Regions from separate parts of the Homo sapiens genome. Here all the other regions are reported to be linked to region 2. Evidence: microRNA targets listed by miRTarBase, many of them from high-throughput screens and not tested one by one. Region 2 holds a microRNA gene; each other region holds the end of a gene's coding sequence.

Evidence for each region. The annotated mature microRNA hsa-miR-6894-3p reads UUGCCUGCCCUCUUCCUCCAG and lies in region 2 at 2,621-2,641, shown strand. An mRNA with a match to its seed (bases 2 to 7 or 8) in the 3' UTR can be bound and repressed. Matches are read on the target gene's strand: a 7mer-m8 pairs with bases 2 to 8, a 7mer-A1 pairs with bases 2 to 7 and ends in A, and an 8mer does both.
Region 1: miRTarBase lists FOXH1 as a target of hsa-miR-6894-3p. Seed matches in the 3' UTR shown: 7mer-m8 at 2,434-2,440.
Region 3: miRTarBase lists FAM180B as a target of hsa-miR-6894-3p. Seed matches in the 3' UTR shown: 7mer-m8 at 4,716-4,722.

The regions. Positions count from the first base shown.
Region 1 is chr8:144,468,932-144,476,002 of GRCh38, reverse strand. It overlaps FOXH1 (forkhead box H1), which reads left to right and starts at 154. Exons shown (of 3, transcript NM_003923.3): 1 at 154-420; 2 at 742-846; 3 at 947-2,591. The coding sequence starts at 247. The coding sequence ends at 1,765. It overlaps KIFC2 (kinesin family member C2), which reads right to left. Exons shown (of 18, transcript NM_001369769.2): 11 at 6,624-6,732; 12 at 6,356-6,513; 13 at 3,957-4,061; 14 at 3,744-3,865; 15 at 3,519-3,642; 16 at 3,297-3,426; 17 at 2,952-3,208; 18 at 1,801-2,871. The coding sequence ends at 2,614. RefSeq lists enhancers at 810-1,703, 1,704-2,599 and a silencer at 3,502-3,561.
Region 2 is chrX:53,195,442-53,201,529 of GRCh38, reverse strand. MIR6894 (microRNA 6894) reads left to right here and starts at 2,585; the gene lies at 2,585-2,641. KDM5C (lysine demethylase 5C) reads left to right here. Exons shown (of 26, transcript NM_004187.5): 15 at 2,372-2,553; 16 at 2,642-2,766; 17 at 2,893-3,040; 18 at 3,654-3,759; 19 at 4,486-4,844; 20 at 5,476-5,614. MIR6895 (microRNA 6895) reads left to right here and starts at 6,042; the gene lies at 6,042-6,088.
Region 3 is chr11:47,586,352-47,593,422 of GRCh38, reverse strand. It overlaps FAM180B (family with sequence similarity 180 member B), which reads right to left and starts at 6,745. Exons shown (of 3, transcript NM_001164379.3): 1 at 6,570-6,745; 2 at 5,602-5,672; 3 at 4,229-5,384. The coding sequence starts at 6,654. The coding sequence ends at 4,989. It overlaps C1QTNF4 (C1q and TNF related 4), which reads left to right. Exons shown (of 2, transcript NM_031909.3): 2 at 2,608-3,756. The coding sequence starts at 2,613. The coding sequence ends at 3,602. RefSeq lists silencers at 4,015-4,215, 5,840-6,040.

The sequences.
Region 1 (7,071 bases), not on the chromosome of region 2:
TAGAATGCTCTCTGCCCCTCCCTTCCAGATTAACCAAAACCTGCTAATTGTGGAAGCCCTCGGCATGCTCCCCTCCCCCACAGCCTCTTCCTCCCTTCCCTCCCCTCCCCCTTCCATCCGAATGATAAAGGCCCCAGCCCGCCTGCCCCAGCCCGGCCTCAGGTCCCGGCCCTGCCTTCTACACTGCCCCACCGCCCTGCACCCTCCACCCGGCCAGGCCCCTGCCCACGCTGTCTACCGTCCCGCATGGGGCCCTGCAGCGGCTCCCGCCTGGGGCCCCCAGAGGCAGAGTCGCCCTCCCAGCCCCCTAAGAGGAGGAAGAAGAGGTACCTGCGACATGACAAGCCCCCCTACACCTACTTGGCCATGATCGCCTTGGTGATTCAGGCCGCTCCCTCCCGCAGACTGAAGCTGGCCCAGGTGAGCGGGCCCCGGCCCCCACTCTCTCTTTCCCCAGACTCGTTCCCCACCCACTTCCAGGTTCAAGCCCTGACCCCCACCCCTTCCTAGCCCACCCAGGTATGCCAGTGGGACCAGTCCTGAGAGCTGAGGGCCTCAAGGCACGACCCTTCTCCGGGAGCCCCTTGCCCTCTCTGCCGCGCTTCCGCGCAGAAATGTCCTTCTTCGGGGACAGCAGGGGCCGGCACCGCGCGCCCCTGAGCCCGGTAGTGGGGGAGGGGTAGGGCGCTACCCCCTCCCCGTCTGGGCTCACGGCGCCGGCCGGCCGCCTGGCGGTTTCAGATCATCCGTCAGGTCCAGGCCGTGTTCCCCTTCTTCAGGGAAGACTACGAGGGCTGGAAAGACTCCATTCGCCACAACCTTTCCTCCAACCGATGCTTCCGCAAGGTGGGGCAGGCCAGGGTCGGAGCCCGGGGGCGGAGCGCGCGCGGAAGTCCTGAGCATCCAAGGTTGGGCAGCCCCACCCATGTCTGACCCCCACACCCAGGTGCCCAAGGACCCTGCAAAGCCCCAGGCCAAGGGCAACTTCTGGGCGGTCGACGTGAGCCTGATCCCAGCTGAGGCGCTCCGGCTGCAGAACACCGCCCTGTGCCGGCGCTGGCAGAACGGAGGTGCGCGTGGAGCCTTCGCCAAGGACCTGGGCCCCTACGTGCTGCACGGCCGGCCATACCGGCCGCCCAGTCCCCCGCCACCACCCAGTGAGGGCTTCAGCATCAAGTCCCTGCTAGGAGGGTCCGGGGAGGGGGCACCCTGGCCGGGGCTAGCTCCACAGAGCAGCCCAGTTCCTGCAGGCACAGGGAACAGTGGGGAGGAGGCGGTGCCCACCCCACCCCTTCCCTCTTCTGAGAGGCCTCTGTGGCCCCTCTGCCCCCTTCCTGGCCCCACGAGAGTGGAGGGGGAGACTGTGCAGGGGGGAGCCATCGGGCCCTCAACCCTCTCCCCAGAGCCTAGGGCCTGGCCTCTCCACTTACTGCAGGGCACCGCAGTTCCTGGGGGACGGTCCAGCGGGGGACACAGGGCCTCCCTCTGGGGGCAGCTGCCCACCTCCTACTTGCCTATCTACACTCCCAATGTGGTAATGCCCTTGGCACCACCACCCACCTCCTGTCCCCAGTGTCCGTCAACCAGCCCTGCCTACTGGGGGGTGGCCCCTGAAACCCGAGGGCCCCCAGGGCTGCTCTGCGATCTAGACGCCCTCTTCCAAGGGGTGCCACCCAACAAAAGCATCTACGACGTTTGGGTCAGCCACCCTCGGGACCTGGCGGCCCCTGGCCCAGGCTGGCTGCTCTCCTGGTGCAGCCTGTGAGGCTCTTAAGACAGGGGCCACTCCTCCCTCCCGCTCCCACCCCCACCTTGTTGACAGGGAGCCAAGGCGAGGCGGCTGTCTGCGACCACAGCAGCCTCGAAACACCAGGCAGCAGCCTTGCTGGGAGTCCACGGTGTTTATTGGGCCACCCCACGCATGGCCGTGGCCCAGCTGGGCACAACCCTCACCCTGGTCTGTCATGCCTGTTTTTCCTACACTCAGCGGCAAAGCTGCAGGAGCAGGGCTGAGCCTGGAATAGCCCTTCCTAGTCCCCTCTTCTCAGCCCACTACCCATCCATCAGTCACCAGCCGTCACCTCCCCTCCCGTGCTCCAGGCTGGGGGAGGGAGAGCCCAGTGGTGGATCCAGCCTGAAGTCCTGCCCTCTCTCATCTGTCTGGAAAGGAGGTAGCACCTTTTTCGGGAAACGGGTTAGGGAGTAAAGACTGCACCCTACATGGTCCTGGTGGTGGGGGGGATAACAGTAAAGGAATTTGCAACGTTTTAATGCCATGCCTGATTTTTGGGTCAGGAGTGGTGACTTGGGTAACCACTTGGCGGGGGGGCCTGGGATTCCCTGCTGTGTGCCGTGATAACAGCAAATGGTGATAAGGAGAAAGCCAAGACCTGTGGCCTGATGCAGGGCTGGGGGCGGGGGGTGATCACTTCAGCAGGCACAACACACTTCACTGGCTGCGGAGGTGGAGGGGTGACTCTGGGAGCTCAGGGGCAATGGATCCAAAGAGGCTAGGGAGCTTGTGCCCTGGGAGACGGGGTACAGGGACTTTACTACCGCCTCTGCCAGCAGAGACCTGGCCTGAGACCCCATGGGCAGGGCCGCGACCCAGGACTAGAGGGGCAGGCCCTCTGCGGGCGCGAGAGCCGAGCCCGAGCCGTTGTCGGGACTGGGGCATGGAGGACTGCCAGGGGACGGCGTAGGGGTGCAGGGGGTCCCGGTGAGCGGAGTGTCGGTGCTGAGGGAAGAAGGCGTCCCGGAGGAGCGCGGGACCCTGCGGCGCCGGGCTGGCCCCAGCTCCACTTGACCCACTCGGTCGGCGAACTTGAGGGAGCAGACTGTCTCCCCGAGATCCTCCGGCCGCGTGGAGATCTGCGGGCAAGAGGCGCGGGTGGGCGGGCCCGGGTGGGCGGCGACCGGCACGCACACACCTGCCCCGCCCCGGCGCCCACCTGCAGCAGCAGCACCGCGGTGGTGCCTGGGCCCAGCGCCGGCTGCAGCAGTCGCGTGAGCTGCGAGTCGCGGAAGGGCACGTGCGGCCGGTGGGCCCGCAGTGCGGCCATCACGCCTCCTAGCGCCAGCAGCGAGCGGTTTATGGTCTGGGCCTCCCGCAGGCGCCGGGCGCCGTCTGGGTCTCCCCGCGGCGGGCCGGCCGCCCCTGCCTTCCGTGCGCGTTCGGATCCCGCCAGGTCCACCAGGTGCAGCGTGCCTAGAGGGGCGAGCGAGCCCGACATGGGGGAAGGCCGGGCCTCGGGTGCTCTGGAGACTCCGCAGGGCTCAGGCACCGGCCGTGGTACCTGCGGTGCCTGGAGCGCGCGGTGGAGACGCCGCGCGCAGCGTCAGCGTGACCAGGGCATGCGAGCGGGAGCTGCGCTGGTTCATGGCGGTGGCGGCGGTGGCCCGGTTGCTCCTCCCCAGTTTCAGCATCTGGAAGGCGGGGCGAAGGGCTGGTCAGGTGCAGGGTCCCCGCCCCCAAGTGGAAGCACGGGGCGGGGTCTCGGAGAGCGGTGCAGCCCTACCTGGTGCAATGTCTCCAGGTTGGGCACGTCCCAGTGGGTGAGGCCAGCCACCTGGATCCCGCCCTGGCCTTCTGGGCCCTGCCTCACGGCCAGGCGCTCGGGAGGCCCTGGAGCAAGGAGGTCCCTGGTGAGAAAGGGGAAGGTCTTGGTTCCAGAATTCTCTGGAAATCCGGAAGGGCCCTGGGCCAGGGGTGGGGAGAAGGCCTCCCTGGTGGAGTAGCCCACCTGACAGCCTCATTGTAGATCTCCACCATGCTGAGTGTCACCCGGTGCTGCCGGCCGGCCCCCATCTCCCGGAACAGCGACTGCAGCGCCCTAGGAACTATGCCGGGGTCCTCAGGAGGGCCCTGAGGATGGGGTGGGGTGCACACCGGGCTCACATCCAAGTCATGCAGGGCCCCTGGGGCCTCTCCCACTGGGGCGTGAGCTCTGTCCCACCTCCATGCTGTAGGTCTTCCCGGTGCCTGTCTGGCCATAGGTGAAGATGCAGACGCTGTAGCCTCGGAGGCAGGACAGCACCGCAGGTTCCAGCTCTCTGAAGACCTGCGGGAGGCGGGAGAATGTGTTTTGAGTCCTCCCCACGTTGCCTGTTTATGCCCTATTTGGTGGGGTGGGGAGTGCCACGAAGGCAGGTGTGAGCAGAGCCTAGTCTCCTGGGAGGATGGCTCTAAGGGACCATGGGGGAGGGTGTGTCCTACAGAGACCCTCTGTCTCCCTAGAGAAGGTGGTGCTTGCAAGAATTTGCCAGGCAAAGAAGGGAAAAGACACAATGAGAAGAGGAACAGCCTATGCAGAGGCTCTGGAGTCCTGAAGACCACGTAGGAGACCTGGGGACAGCAGTTAAGAGCGCAGGTGTGGTGTCCTTAATGTGGAAGCCAACGTGAAAAAAAGAAAAATAAATCCCAGCATTTTGAGAGGCCAAGGAGGGTGGATTGGTTGAGCTCCGGAGTTTGAGACCAGCCTAGGCAATACGGTGAAATCCCGTCTGTACAAAAACTACAAAAAAATTAGCCAGGCATGGTGTTGCACATCTGTGGTCCCAGCTACTCGGGAGGCTGAGGTGGAAGGATCTCTTGAGCCCAGGAAGCAGAGGTTGTAGTGACCTGAGATTGCACCACTGCACTCCAGCCTGATGACAAAGTGTGACTGTCCAAAAAAAAAAAAATACATATACATATATATGTAGTAAAAAATTTTAAAAATGTTTAAAAGAGCCCAGATGGGCTGGGCGAGGTGGCTCACGCCTGTAAACCCAGCACTTTGGGAGGCCAAGGCAGGCAGATCACAAGGTCAGGAGTTCAAGACCAGCCTGGCAAACGCGGTGAAACCCCTGTCTCTACTAAAAATACAAAAATTAGCCGAGCATGGTGGCACGCACCTGTAATCCCAGCTACTTCGGAGGCTGAAGCAGGAGAATTGCTTGAACCCAGGAGGCGGAGGTTGCAGTGAGCCGAGATCACACCACTGCACTACAGCCTGGGCAACAGAGTGGGATTCCATCTCAAAAATAAAGAAAAAAAAAAGAGCCCAGATGTTGGGGCGTGACTGCACGGTTCAAACCTGGGTATGATTGGAGCTTACTCATTGGCCTTCCTGTGCCTCACTTTCCCCTGAGAGATAAGGGCTGCAGTGGCACCTGCTGTGAACACTTGTGGCAGTGCACCTAGAGGGCCGGCCACACCAGTACCTGGCTCACAAGGCGTGACCCCAGGAAGGGCCTGCAGGTACGGGGGATGGTGGCCAGCCAGGCCTGCTGGAGCCCAGGCACAGACAGGTGCTGAGAGAGACACAAGGTTAGGACATTCACCCCATTGGCACTGGACACCAACAGTCTTTTGAGCAACAACATGGCTGGCTTTTATGCCCAGAAGGTCGCTGCTAACAGGGTGGGCTGTCAGCTCTGTTTGAAGACAGCCACAAGGCTAGAATCTAGAATTCTGTGTTCTGTGTGGTCACTGAGGTTCCATGATTGGATGGAGGTGGCACTGAGGATGACATTCAGGAGCACATCATGGCACCACTGCAGAAACAGGAACACAGATGAGGGGCTTGTCCACAGATGCCTTTGGTTCAGACACATTGACTGAGAGGACCCTGTCCAGGACGGCTGTCCAGAGGACGGTGCACAAGGCATGCCCTGCGCAGTGCTGCAGTGTGGGGTGGGGCTAAGGCCAGAGGGATGTGTGGGATGAAGGAAGAAGTGGTTGGAAAAGAGGCAATCAGGGTGACCCTGGCCACCTGCTGGGCAGTCGTCCCCCTGTCCCTGTGAGGCTGGCAGGCAGCCTGGTTGGGAGTCGCTGCCATTCTGCCCCTTACCTAGTCTCCCCTGGCTCTGAGCTGCCATCTCCTTAGCTATGGGAGCTGTAGCAGCAAAGGGCATGTGCAGATGAAAACGTGTGTGAAAGTGGGGTGGGCTGGGGCTGAAGCCCCTGCTTTTCCACAGGTGTCTGGCAGGAAAAGGGTGGGGAAGGAGAGTGGGATCCAGGCAAGGCAGAGAGAGCACACTAAGACTAGAAGGTTGCCTCCTCACCCACGGCCCCCACCACCCACCGCCTGCCTTGGGGCCATAAAGCAATGAGGGGCCCTCATAGCTGGGCAAACCCTGGACCCCAGCAAAGGGGAGTGGGCAGGCAGTGAAGCCTGGGAGGAGGAGGCACCAAGCTGGGCTGCCTGCCCTGCTTCCCAGCCCCCTCGGTTCCCTTTCCTTCCTGGCTAGAGCCCAGCCACCCTCTCTCCTCCAGGTGGACACCCAGACTGGGAAGGGGAAACTGGAGCCTCTCCTGCTCTTCAGGGAACTCTGAAAAAGGGTCAGGATGGCTGCAAAGGCAGGCTGTCACCTCCTCCTGGCTGGCGTCTGGAGGGAAGACCCAGTCTAGGCGGAATCGACGATGGCGCCCCCGGTAGCAGGTGGTGACGGTGCCCCCTGGGCCAGGCTCCACACTCACAAGGCTAGAAGATGTCCCTGGCCTCAGCCGACACAGCACACGGATATTTCCTGCAGTGGGGATCAGGTCAGCATAATGCCTCGCAGACCCTAAAGCACAGAGAAGCTGCACTTCTTCCAGCCGCCCTCCCTGCCCCGCTAGGCTCCCAAGCCTGTCATACCCTTGAGTTCTGGCAGCCGCCCTGGGCATCCGGCTGGGGGCCCTTGCTGCCCCTCAGGGAGCTGAGTGCCAGGCCCTCCAGATGACAGTGCCCCCAAGGCCCAGGACACCTGAGGGAACAGGGATGTACAGAAGGCAAGGGGTCAGCCAAGGAGCTGCGGAGGTGGGGGGTGGGAGGGTCCTGAGAGCAGCAGGGAGCCCCCACAGGCCCGCTCAGCTGTGCTAAGCCACAACTTTCAGTGGCTCTGGGCCCCTGGGGACATCATTGAGTAACCCCAGGATAAAGCCCAGGAATGACAGGCAGGAACACCACATCATCTGTCTCCTCCGTGCTTCTGGGCAATGCTTTAAGAGTTTACTGTCAACCAAGTATGCATAGAATTAAAATAAGGCCCAGAAGTGGAATCCCACCCTGGGTCACACAGAAGCTGTTTGGGTTCCAGAGCCCC
Region 2 (6,088 bases):
CAAGCACCCTATTCTGGTGGAAGTTCGGGGAGGCAGAGGCAGCACCAAGAAGATGTAGCCTCTACTCTTGGCGTATAGTGAAAAGAACTAGATGCATCTCGATTGAAAACCACATACCATTCTCTGCTATACCCTTTACCAGCAACCTTAAGTCGATTTACTTCATTGTCAGTTTTCCCCTCTGAAAAATGGGATTATGATAATGCTTATCTTTTTGGATAGTTGATTGTATTAAAGATAATGTTTGCTTAGTGACTGACCCATGGCAGGTACTGGTATAGCAGCTATTTATCATTATTTACATGACCTAGCAAAATAGACTGGCATATGAAACCTCACTGCTGATTATCTAGGTGACTGTATCAAGTTACTTGATCTTTCATATCTCACTTTCCTACTCTAAAGTGGGAATAAATACCTAACTTGCAAGATGTAAGGTTAGAGTAAGGTGATTTATATGAAAGCCATCTCTCTAACATTGCCTTTGCAATGTTGCAGCTGCTATTATTGGTAATGTTAATACATGAAGAAACTGATTGAAATTTGGAATGTTTCTCAGGAATTGCCATTTTATTACATGCAGATGGTTTATTAACTCCAGCTAGGGCAATAATATTACCAAGCTGAAGGTGGTCCTGCTTTAATTGATTTCTTGTAAGCTTGTGTCAGTTGTGTGTGTAGCTGAGTGGAAGCTGCTACAGAGCTCTAAAGTCCACTCGTGTAGTTTCAGCCATCATCTTCAAATTTCACACTTGCCCAGTTAGGGAATTGACTTTGTGAGAGTCTTTCATAAGATTACAAAGGAGTGCTGGTTCTGTGGGATCCCTTGCTGCCTATCTAGGGTAATACTTTCTTATTTTAAAGCTCATTTATAGCTTTCCTGTGAGTGTGGGCTATAGGGAGAACTATAGCTACAGTAGTGTTGGAAGTCTGGGGCCTCTCAGTCGTGGTGTAAGTTGTTGAGTCCCTGGGCTTTTCCAGGCATCATTTTCTCACTCTGTTCAGTACTGTTATTAAATGATGGCCGTGTGGCTGTGCCAAGCTGTGGGAAGGAGCCAAAGCAAGGTGGGGAGAATAGACCTTCTCATCTTGACATTCAGAATTCTTCACACTTGGCCCTTACCTCAGAGAAGCATTCTGGACACCATAGTCTTGGAATCCTGTAAGAGATTGTATGTGTATTTAAGTATGTTTCTGGGAAGAGGACTTATAGTTTACATCCAATTCTCAGGAGTCTGTAGTCCAAAAAAACCCTAGAGACTTCATCCTTAGAATATTCTCTGGCTTTAGAGTCAAAATTAACTCAGTTTGGCAAGTTACTGACCCTGAGACTTAGTTTCTGCCTTAGTAAAATGAGATAGGCCTGTGGAATATATATTCTTATCTGAAAATTAGAGCTAATAACAGTAAATATTTGATGAACACTGAATCTAAGTGCTGAGATACTTGTCTGATTCCATAGCTGCTTTATTTTTGTTAATCCTCATAACAACCCAACAAGGATGATACTGTTTATCTCCATCTTACTAGATAATGAAACAGACCCAGAGACGTTAAATGATTTACTCATGATCACACAGCATATAAGTGGCAGAGTGGGATTTGGGCTCATAACTTATGCAGAGATTAGGTGTTAAAGTTGGTATGTAAGACAAAAACTGTTAAGAGTTGACATTTCCCATTAAAATCCCTAAAATTGCCCATTAGATATACACACTGGGTTGTCTCTCGATTACTCCAATATAGCCAGCTTTTCCTTCATTTTTGAAATGGATTGCTTTTTCTTTATCTGAGCAACAGATGAAGTCATTGGATTAGGTTTGGAAACCATATTGTTGGGAGAAAATTATTATATCTCTTTAAACCCTGAACACAAGCACATACGGTTGAATTTCTCTAAGTTATATATGTGCACAAGTATCTCCTGCCTACTAAGTGGCCAGCGTGGTGCCTGGAACACAGTGGGCTCTGAGTAACTGGAAGCCGATATTGTTCCCCAGTACACATAACTAGCCAGGCCTGTCCCTTGGCCACTTGCACTCATTGCCACCTCTCTGGTATCTTGGTCCACCACTTTCCTCACTTCTCACCCACAAGACCCTTTCTGCTGATCTGGATCTTACCTGATTTTTCTTCCTCTATAAAATTATCTGACTCAGCGCACACTGATCTTGCCCTGGTTTATCTGATTCCCCAAGCTTTGAGAGTCTAGACTTTACAAAGGGCAGGTATGCTCCCTGGGGTTTGGCCTCTTAAACCCCATGACCCTCAGCATAGATTTGAATCTAAAGTAGGGGTCGGTGGTGGCTGAGATGGAGGATTTTGCTACCTGGTTCTGGTTATATATAACGCATAGGTTAAATGCCCTTAGGGTATCACAGAGGCTGAGCGAGAGGCTTTCGAGCTGCTCCCAGATGATGAGCGCCAGTGTATCAAGTGCAAGACTACGTGTTTCCTGTCAGCCCTGGCCTGCTACGACTGCCCAGACGGCCTTGTCTGCCTTTCCCACATCAATGATCTCTGCAAGTGCTCCAGTAGCCGGCAGTACCTGCGGTGAGCATGGGCCTTTCTGGAGGAAGTGGGGCAAGAAGGAGGATGGAGAGCTGGGCCAGACATGCTCTTGCCTGCCCTCTTCCTCCAGGTATCGGTATACCTTGGATGAGCTTCCTGCCATGCTGCATAAGCTGAAGGTTCGGGCTGAGTCCTTTGACACCTGGGCCAACAAAGTGCGAGTGGCCCTGGAGGTGGAGGATGGGCGGAAGCGCAGTGAGTGATGGGGGGGATGGAGGGACTCCACAGGCAAGTTCTATTCCCTTTCTTCTGTACTCTGACCCCCTTCCTCTGCCTCTATTCAATACTGCCTACTCTTTGCTGCCCTCATTTTTCTTCCAGGCCTTGAAGAACTGAGGGCACTAGAGTCTGAAGCCCGTGAGCGGAGGTTTCCTAATAGTGAGCTGCTGCAGCAACTAAAGAACTGCCTGAGTGAGGCAGAGGCTTGCGTGTCCCGAGCTCTGGGACTGGTCAGCGGCCAGGAAGCTGGGTATGACAGCGTGAGGAGTTAGGGCACACATAAGGTGCTGAGGATCCAGCACCGAGGAAAAGTGCTGCAAGGGGTAGACTGTGAATACCATTTGGCAGAATGGACATCAGCAGGAAGCTGCCAGGCACAAGAGTGTGAGATGGCCTGGAAGGTGTTGGGGGGGACAAGGAGACCAGGCCACCTAAAAAGGAGAGGAGAGCCTCTGTGATAAGAAAGCTAGAAGTGTTTATTTTTTATCAGTACCTGGAAGTGGCCTGAGAGAGAGGCTGAGGGGTTTTGTGGGCAGGGAAGAGTTGTGGGAGGCTTACGGGTAAGAACAGGACAAAGATGTATAGACCTGATCCCTGCTAACACAGCTTTAGAGTTCACAGTAGAGGATGGATTGCAAAGTGTAGCTCTTATTACAACCCATTAGTTTCTAATTCTTTCCCCTCATAATATGAACATGCTCTATAATTTAAAACCTTCCCTCTAACCTGGGCAATTGGGGCAAATTTGAAATATGCGAGATCAAGGTGGACAGGTGTAGTGAGGAAAGGTGTTCAGTCTTAGCATAGACATGGAGGGAAGGCACTGAGTTTGGACCTGAAACCTCACATGTGATACTTCATAGCCCCCACAGGGTGGCTGGTCTACAGATGACCCTGACTGAGCTCCGGGCCTTTCTGGACCAGATGAACAACCTGCCTTGCGCCATGCACCAGATTGGGGATGTCAAGGTGAGGACGCTTGGAGTGCTGATGAGGGATCAAGGGGACCAGGGGACCTGAGCAGCAGGCCATGCTTGGCTCCTTTCAAAAGCTTAAAGTGTTCAGGCAAGACAGGACACACGTGTGAGAAAAGAACAGGTGGGAGGGGTGAGGCAAGGGTCTAGTGACTTGTCTGTTAGAAATGGGCCTTGAGGGTCAGGTGGCAAGGGTATGGGTATAGGATACAGAGTCCAGGTAAGGTTTCCTGGAGGAGGGGTAGAGGAGAAGGAGGTAACAGGGGTGCTTGTTGGGCTTGGAAAGTGGAGGGAAATTCATGAAGGTGGAGGAGGAGTGAGATGGAGAGGGCAACAGACCCCAGGGTGGTGAGCACAAGGGTTTATGTGAGGACTAATCATAGCAATTTTTAGGGCAGGGAGGTCTCTTGGTGCCCTGAGAACAGAGCCCTCTGAAAAGTTAAATAAAGCATAGATTAATAATTATTAGTTAATTAAGAATCTCTCAGGGTGGGGCCCAGGAATCTGCATTCTTAAATTCCCCAGGGCATTCTAATGAGCAGTCAGTGTTAGGAACCCCAACTGTCTTAGGGCTTGGAGAAGGAGAGCTCAGCCCATGTTAGGCTCCTTTGCCCCAAAAGCTTGGAGGGTAAGAAGATAGGTGGGACAAGGTTCCATCTGGTGGTGGAACCCCTCAGTGGGCCCAGCTGAGGAGTTTGTTCTTCATCCTGTGTCCTGGTAGGGTGTTCTGGAACAGGTGGAGGCCTACCAGGCTGAGGCTCGTGAGGCCCTGGCCTCACTGCCCTCCAGTCCAGGGCTACTGCAGTCCCTGTTGGAGAGGGGGCGGCAGCTGGGGGTGGAGGTGCCTGAGGCCCAGCAGCTCCAGCGGCAGGTGGAACAGGCGCGATGGCTGGATGAGGTGAAACGCACACTGGCCCCCTCAGCCCGAAGGGGCACCTTGGCTGTCATGCGAGGACTGTTGGTCGCGGGTGCCAGTGTAGCCCCTAGCCCTGCTGTGGATAAAGCCCAGGCCGAGCTGCAGGAACTGCTGACCATTGCTGAACGCTGGGAGGAGAAAGCCCACCTCTGCCTGGAGGCCAGGTAGGTCCAGCTGCTGCTTCCCTTCCCTGCCCTATTCCAAACATCAAAGTTGAGTGGAGACCCAGAAGAGGATGCCCATGGGTGGCCTTAGGTATCACGCTCCTGTGTTACTGTATTGACTCTCCCCTCTTTTGTTGTCTATCTTGTCGTTTTTTTAAAAAACAACTCTGTATACTTAAAGGCAAAGAGAGGCTGATGGAGAAGCAGAAATGGACAGATAGAGATTATCTAGAAGACTAGCCCTACAGGCTAATGTGCGCATACCCAGAAGCACAAGTGACAGGCAGATGGGCAGATGTTGGTAGAAAGACCCCACACAGGGCAGTTGACAAACTGCAGCAACAGATTACACAATACAGGTTGTATATGTAGGCATTGCTAGCAGGCCAGCAGACTGGCAGACAAACAGAGGTGCAAGAGCTGTGGCAGAAGGGATGAAGTTGGGTGCATGCAGTCTTGGGGAAGCAGGGACTGGCAGCTACCCTTAGGTGGAATACAAGCAAGTAGGCCCAAGTGACAGCAGGAATAACAGACACCCAAGGGGCCCATGCAGATATATCTGGTGGTCAGGCTGGGCTTCTGGTCAGGCAGACCACATCAGACTGAGCGTTCTTTTTTTCCTTACCTTTAGGCAGAAGCATCCACCAGCCACACTTGAGGCCATAATCCGTGAAGCGGAAAACATCCCTGTTCACCTGCCCAACATCCAGGCTCTCAAGGAGGCTCTTGCTAAGGCCCGGGCCTGGATTGCTGATGTTGATGAGATCCAAGTGAGGACCCTGCCACTCCCACCCCAGGCCTTCAGTCCAGCTGGGAAGAGATGGCATATACACTGGGATGTGCTGGGTTGCTGGGATGGGTTGGGTTGGCTGGAGAGAGGAAGGGGGCATGGCATGTAGTCAGGAGGCAAGATGTGCCTGATGAGCAGGGTGAGAGGAAGAGTGTGAGGCTGGCCTGAAGGAAGAGAGGGCACTGGTTAGGATGAGATTGGTGGGCCAGGGAAGCAGGTGGTATGGGACTGAGCAGGGCAGGGGCATGGAGGAGAGGAGAAGAGGCAAACCACAACAGAAGGCTGACTAGATATTTGGGGCTGAGCCAGTCAGTAGATGCCGGTGTTGTGGGAGAGAGCCAAGTGGTTGTTCCTTAGGATGACACCTATTTTTTTAATCCCTCAAGACTGAGCCCAGTTCATCTTTCCAGCTCAGGGCCAGGCACAGAGTAAGCATCAATAGCATTGGCAAGTT
Region 3 (7,071 bases), not on the chromosome of region 2:
GAAAAGCTGAGCTGTTTTCCGTGTTCCCAGAAGACAAAACACTAGAGAATGTGTTTGCTTGCTTTTGTTTGGTTTTGCTTTCTGTCTTCCTCACCCTGGATCCCAAGACTCATTCCTCTGATCTCCTCTCCTAGTTTTGCAAAAAGGTAAACTGAGGCACAGAACAAATTGGCTGGACATACCTGTGTCTAGGAGGGAAGAGTGACAGGAAGGCATACGGAATTTGAGTCAAAAAACCTCAGTGCTCCATGGGTGACCTTGGGCCAAAATGCTTTCCCTTGTTGGGCCTCAGCTTTCTCATCTATAAAATGGGAGACGGCCCACCTGTCTTGTAGGTTTGCCAAGACCATGTGTCTAAAAGAACTTTGTAAAAGGGAATGCACTGGACACTTGTGAGGTGCCATCTTCACCACTGTGGATGGCCCCTTCCCTCCTCCCTGTCCTAACCAAGGGACACCTAACTAATCCATAGGACACCTTTGTGAGAATTACAAAAAGCACCTCCTCTGGAAGGAGACAGCATTCAGTTGGCTAGCAACTTGGGGTCTTTAGTATGAGAATGAGAAGGTGGCATACTTTACGCCAGGTGCTGCTCTAACATGTGGAGTGTGAGCTAGATTCTAGCTGGGACGTTCTGCACATCTACACCTGACAACCCTTCTCAGCAGGTCCCTGCTGTCTCTAAGAGACACAGAGCTACACATACAGGGCATTTTCTAAAGCAGCCCACATCCCAGGCTGTCTCCAGCTCATTTCTTTCCTGTTTTGTTTCCACATCAGGGCTTTTGGGTATTCAAGCCCCAAAGCACGTGCCCTACTAGGAAGCAGGATGGAATCCCTACATCAGAGAGTGACTCCTTTGAGTTAAGCAGTGCCTTCACCAAGCTCTCAGGGGTAGGAGTGACTGAGTCCCTAAACCCTTACGTCAAGAACTGGACCAGATCACTTTTGTCAGGGCAACCGACAGAAGCATCTGCACACCTCAGCACTGCCGTTGACAAACCATGTTCACACCTATCTCAGCACACCCCCACAGCAAGCCTGTGTGTGAGGTCTCTTCCCCATTTACATGGAGGAAGCCATGCCCAGAGAAGTTAGGGAACCTGCCCAAGGTTTCACAGTGTGAGTGGTAGAGCCAGGACCTGAACCCAGATCTGGCTATCTGTCCTCTCCAATCCATCACTCCCAAGGAACAAAGCTGCTGACTTCACAGCCTTGCCAAAGCCCTGCTGGAATTGTTGCTGTCCCTGTCCATCCCCAGTAGCCCCTGGCTCGCCACTCCTTCTTCTGAGTAACCAGCCTCCAAGCAAAGAGAAAGGAGTCACCTTCTCTTTTACTCTGATTTCAAGGGGGAGGAAGCTACCTCAAAGCCCAACTGTTCTCGCCTCCTCTGTGCAGGAAGGGCCCCTGGTGAGGCCAGGAAAGGGGTCAGGGAGCAGCGATTTCCTTTCCTGCTCAGATGGGGCTTAAACAGTAACGGTCATGCAGAGCGTTGACACAGAGAGCCAGTGCCTGCGTGAGTGGCAGACCAAGGACCATAAAATAACCACAGGAAAATGCAGCCAACTGGAGCTGAGGGGAACTCAGAGACTCCCCTGAATCCCCCGGGTTACCAGGGCCCCTGAGTGTCAAATGGGAGGTGTAGGGGCAAGCCCAGCAGACAGGGCTGTAGGCCTCTTTAACCAGAGTGTTTCTGCTAGTCTGTGTTCAAGCTTTCACTTAAGAAAGGGGTTTCGGCCGGGCGCGGTGGCTCACGCCTGTAATCCCAGCACTTTGGGAGGCCGAGGCAGGCGGATCACAAGGTCAAGAGATCAAGACCATCCTGGCCAACATGGTGAAACCCTGTCTCTACTAAAAATACAAAAATTAGCTGGGTGTGCTGGGTGCAAGCCTGTAGTCCCAGCTACTTGGGAGGCTGAGGCGGGAGAATCGCTTGAACCTGGGAGGTGGAGGCTGCAGTGAGCCGAGATCAAGCCACTGCACTCCAGCCTGGCGACACAGCCAGACTCCGTCTCAAAAAAAAAAGGGGGGGGGGCGGGGTTTCAAGGCCAGGCGCGATGGCTCACGCCTGTAATCCCAGCACTTTGGGAGGCTGAGGCAGGTGGATCACTTGAGGTCAGTTCAAGACCAGCCTGGCCAACATGGTGAAACCCCGTCTCTACTAAAGATACAAAAAATTAGCTGGGCGTGATGGTGCGCACCTGTAATGTCAGCTACTCAGGAGGCTAAGGCAGGAGAACTGCTTGAACCCGGGAGGTGGAGGTTGCAGTGAAACGAGATCGTGCCACTACACTCCAGCCTGGTTCACAGAGCGAGACTCCATCTCAAAACAAACAAACAAAACAAAGAAATGCAAATTATCAGGCCCATCACAGACCTACTGAATGAACTCTGGTGATGGGGCCCAACTATGTATGTTTGAACACGCCCTCCAAGTGACAGTGAGGCTCGCTAGAGTTTGAGAATCCAAGGATGTAGGAAAATTGAAACCTACTTGTGGGTCAAGGGCAGGGCTGGGAAGAGAACCCTTGTCTCCCGGTGGAGAGCCGGGCGTTTGGAAGCCGCCCCTGCCAACACTCCACTCTCGCCCCTCCGTCTCCCTCCCAGGCGCCATGCTGCCGCTTCTGCTGGGCCTGCTGGGCCCAGCGGCCTGCTGGGCCCTGGGCCCGACCCCCGGCCCGGGATCCTCTGAGCTGCGCTCGGCCTTCTCGGCGGCACGCACCACCCCCCTGGAGGGCACGTCGGAGATGGCGGTGACCTTCGACAAGGTGTACGTGAACATCGGGGGCGACTTCGATGTGGCCACCGGCCAGTTTCGCTGCCGCGTGCCCGGCGCCTACTTCTTCTCCTTCACGGCTGGCAAGGCCCCGCACAAGAGCCTGTCGGTGATGCTGGTGCGAAACCGCGACGAGGTGCAGGCGCTGGCCTTCGACGAGCAGCGGCGGCCAGGCGCGCGGCGCGCAGCCAGCCAGAGCGCCATGCTGCAGCTCGACTACGGCGACACAGTGTGGCTGCGGCTGCATGGCGCCCCGCAGTACGCGCTAGGCGCGCCCGGCGCCACCTTCAGCGGCTACCTAGTCTACGCCGACGCCGACGCTGACGCGCCTGCGCGCGGGCCGCCCGCGCCCCCCGAGCCGCGCTCGGCCTTCTCGGCGGCGCGCACGCGCAGCTTGGTGGGCTCGGACGCTGGCCCCGGGCCGCGGCACCAACCACTCGCCTTCGACACCGAGTTCGTCAACATTGGCGGCGACTTCGACGCGGCGGCCGGCGTGTTCCGCTGCCGTCTGCCCGGCGCCTACTTCTTCTCCTTCACGCTGGGCAAGCTGCCGCGTAAGACGCTGTCGGTTAAGCTGATGAAGAACCGCGACGAGGTGCAGGCCATGATTTACGACGACGGCGCGTCGCGGCGCCGCGAGATGCAGAGCCAGAGCGTGATGCTGGCCCTGCGGCGCGGCGACGCCGTCTGGCTGCTCAGCCACGACCACGACGGCTACGGCGCCTACAGCAACCACGGCAAGTACATCACCTTCTCCGGCTTCCTGGTGTACCCCGACCTCGCCCCCGCCGCCCCGCCGGGCCTCGGGGCCTCGGAGCTACTGTGAGCCCCGGGCCAGAGAAGAGCCCGGGAGGGCCAGGGGCGTGCATGCCAGGCCGGGCCGGAGGCTCGAAAGTCCCGCGCGAGCGCCACGGCCTCCGGGCGCGCCTGGACTCTGCCAATAAAGCGGAAAGCGGGCACGCGCAGCGCCCGGCAGCCCAGGCCCCTGCGCTGTCTTGACTGCGACGCATTCGCCGGCGGCAGGCGGGAAGGTGCTGACTACTGCGGGCCCGCAGGCCCGGGGAAGGGGTTGGAGGTTGGAAAGCAAGGTCCCCTTGGACCCTGGGAGGGTGAGGAGGTGGGAATTTGATGGAACCACATTCGCCTAGTCCGTTGGGGGCCTCCCTTTTATATCCCTACCTCGTCTAGCCCTCTGACTCATCATTGACCTACGACCTCAGCCTTAGCCCCCGGCTGATGCCTTTCTGTGACAAGGAACAGCACCCCATTACCCCACAGGGTGCATGGGATTCAAGGAAACAGTGCATTCCTTCTTCCAGCAGGGCGTGGGAATGAGATGAGGAGTTGATACCTGGTTGCCCTGACTCTTGCCTTCCCGGGATGGGGAGAGTGATTTGCCCAGAGCAGGGGTTAGACGCTTATTCCGACATAGAATGACACAGGCTCCAGGAGGCCGAAACAGAACATTTTATGAGAAGAGCAACACAGAATCAGGGCCACACCTGCTCCAGCCCACCTCCGCTTGTCTCTCCTTGGTCTCCCAGCCTTACTCCCCCCTCTGAGGTATTCACCCGACGCTTGTTGAGATATTGCCTCCCTACCCCAAAAGAGATAATGTTCCTCCCTCCCCCTGCTTCCCTCCACTCTTCCAACTGACAGAACTCAAAAAGTCGATTCTCCCAACCCAGATGGGAACTTGGAGGCTCAGAGACCCCAAATCCTTGGTTGTGCCTAAAAGGGGATGCTCAGCACCTAGAGGATTCCTGTGAATTCCACAGGACCTGTCACAGACTGCCAGGGTAGGAGTTGGAAGGTCTGACCAGGCCTTACTTGGGGCAGCTTCCCTTCAGCATCTCTTGAACACACTTCTCAACCCTGACCCCTGATCTCCACACACACACACACACACACACACACACACACACACTCACACACACACTGCCTGCAAGTCGTGCCCTTAGCTCTGTGCCCACTCCTTGCGCACTCCTTGCGACCCAGAGCCTGGGTTCTTAGCCTCTCAAGATCTAGGAAACAAGATCTGGTCGGGGTAAGCAGAGAGGGGGTGTCCAGGGTGCAAGCCAAGCCCAGAGATCTGAACACGGTGAAAAGAATCAGATGCCAGACAGAAGCCCCTGCGCAAGATGGGTCTGCCTGGGGGGTTGAGGAGGAGATGGGAGGGGGTAATGGCAGGTGAAAGAACAAAAGAGGAGGGTCAGGGGAAGGGGTCAAGGATGGAGGCCCAGGACCCCAGGGAAGGGGGCCGGTCCTGGGGGCAGAAACCTTTGCACAGGTCCCAGAGTGTTTCCTGTGCCAGGAGAGCGAAGACCTGGGCCCAGCGGCCCCGTTCCTCAGCCTCACTAGCTGCGTGGAGCCGGTAGACGCAGGACAGGCCTGTGAGGAGCAGATGTTCAAAGTCCCAAGTGCTAAGAGGAGGCCCCTTCCGCAGGTCCTGGAGCTGCTGCAGCCACTGCTCAGTGCCCTCCAAGTCACTGGGCACGTGGTGCTGCAGGAGGAGTCTGAGTCGGCGGCCTGGGTGTGTGGACGCTAGTTCCTCATCCTGGATGTGCAGCTGCCCCATGACATCCAGCTCCAGCCCAGCCCAGAGCAGCTGCAAGGGGAGCCATGTAAGGGGTGGGCTGTGGCCTGGGGAGCAGGGCAGGGAGCAAGAGTGGGCTGGGGGAAGGGGCAGAAGCAGGCAGCAGGACGCATGCTGGCTTGCCCCACCCAACCCTAGCAGGTCCACCCTGAGACATCCCCCTTCCCAACCCTGAGCTTAGGGACCTCTGGACGTGCCCACCCCCATGTCCCAGGCTGGGAGGAAAGACCTCAAACATCACTTCCGGGGCCTCTGGCTCCTGCAGGCCACCTCCCACGCTGGTGCTGTCCATGGGCTGCCCTGGGGCAGCAGAGAGGAGTCAGGCCCCTGCCATGCTACACCATGAACACCCCAGCCTCCCAGAAGTGCCCCTCTGCTGCCTGGTAGAGGTCCCGAGTGCTTCATCATTCTACAAAAGGGCAGGAATGCCATCCCATGCCCTCCTTTCCCCTCCCTCTCACGCACACACATGCACATTGACATTCACCCTCCCAGGCATAGGTCCTCTGATCTCAAAAGCATCATTCCAAGCCCAGTTACCATGTTGGCAAATGCCCAGGACACCTCCTTTAAATTGCACAATGCCCTTGTTAAAGAGCTCCAGGCCAACGGGTCACAAGACCCTTCCCCACCCTCCTCCCCTCCCTATAGTCATCTGAGGATAAAGTCACCTAAAACAGTGCCAGTGACTCTCCCAAGGACAAAGACCTCTTTGGAAAGAGCCTACTCTCCCTGCTCCTCCTCAGCAGTAAGGGAGGGAGGAGGAAGACAGGGCAGGGAGGACAGAGCAGGGGAGGATGTGAGGCAGGGAGGACGGGGCAGGGGAGGATGTGAGGCAGGGAGGACAGAGCAGGGGAGGATGTCTGTGGCAGCTCCGTCCGGCCCACACCTTGGGGTGTTGCCTCACCCTTGCAATGTTTGTTCCAAGCCCAGGCAGGTCAAGAGACCCTGCTTTGGGCATCAGTGGGAATGAGCCCAGGGCCAGCATTAAGAGCACCTAGGGCTATCTCCCTAGGTGTCACCTGTACCTTTCCAGTTCTGGGGGTGGGGCCCACACTGTCACCCACCACAGCACACATCAGCCTGGTACCCACCATGCCCACGCTTCTATGCCCGACTAGCCTCAAATAGAGCCAACTGTTAACTGCTGTCAGCCAGCAGCCTTGGCTCCTCTCCACCCACCCTGAAGCCTGGTACCTGCATGGGGCTGGGTTGTAGTCACACCAGAGAGGAGACAAATGGCTACCACCAGGCAAACCAGGAACTGCAGGGTCGCAGCCATGCTCAACCACGTCCTCTGAGTCTCACTCTGTTCAGCAGTTCTCTGCTCCCTCATCTGCCTGCCACACACCTCAGCTCCAACTTTCCACTGCGGGCTGCTCCAGAGCTCTGTAATGCGTGTCATTCTTCAGTGCTGAACAGGGAGGGGCTGGCTGTGGCCTCGGTCACCTCCCAGGGGCTCTTTCCATCCTTTAGAAATGGGGAATCTTTGGTTGTTGGCAGGAGCCTGGCTCCCTGCTTGTCAGGCCCTCAGCCTGTTCCTGCCCAGCTGGGCGGTATGCTTAGTTAATAGGAAAAAGGTGTTTGGTAGCAAATAGCTGTAGCTTGGCCCTCCCAAAGGGTAGGAAAGAGCTCAGGCAGTAAGACCATCTTACTGTCTGCGCCCTCAAAATATCCTGCGACTGAGGCCAGCCCCGAC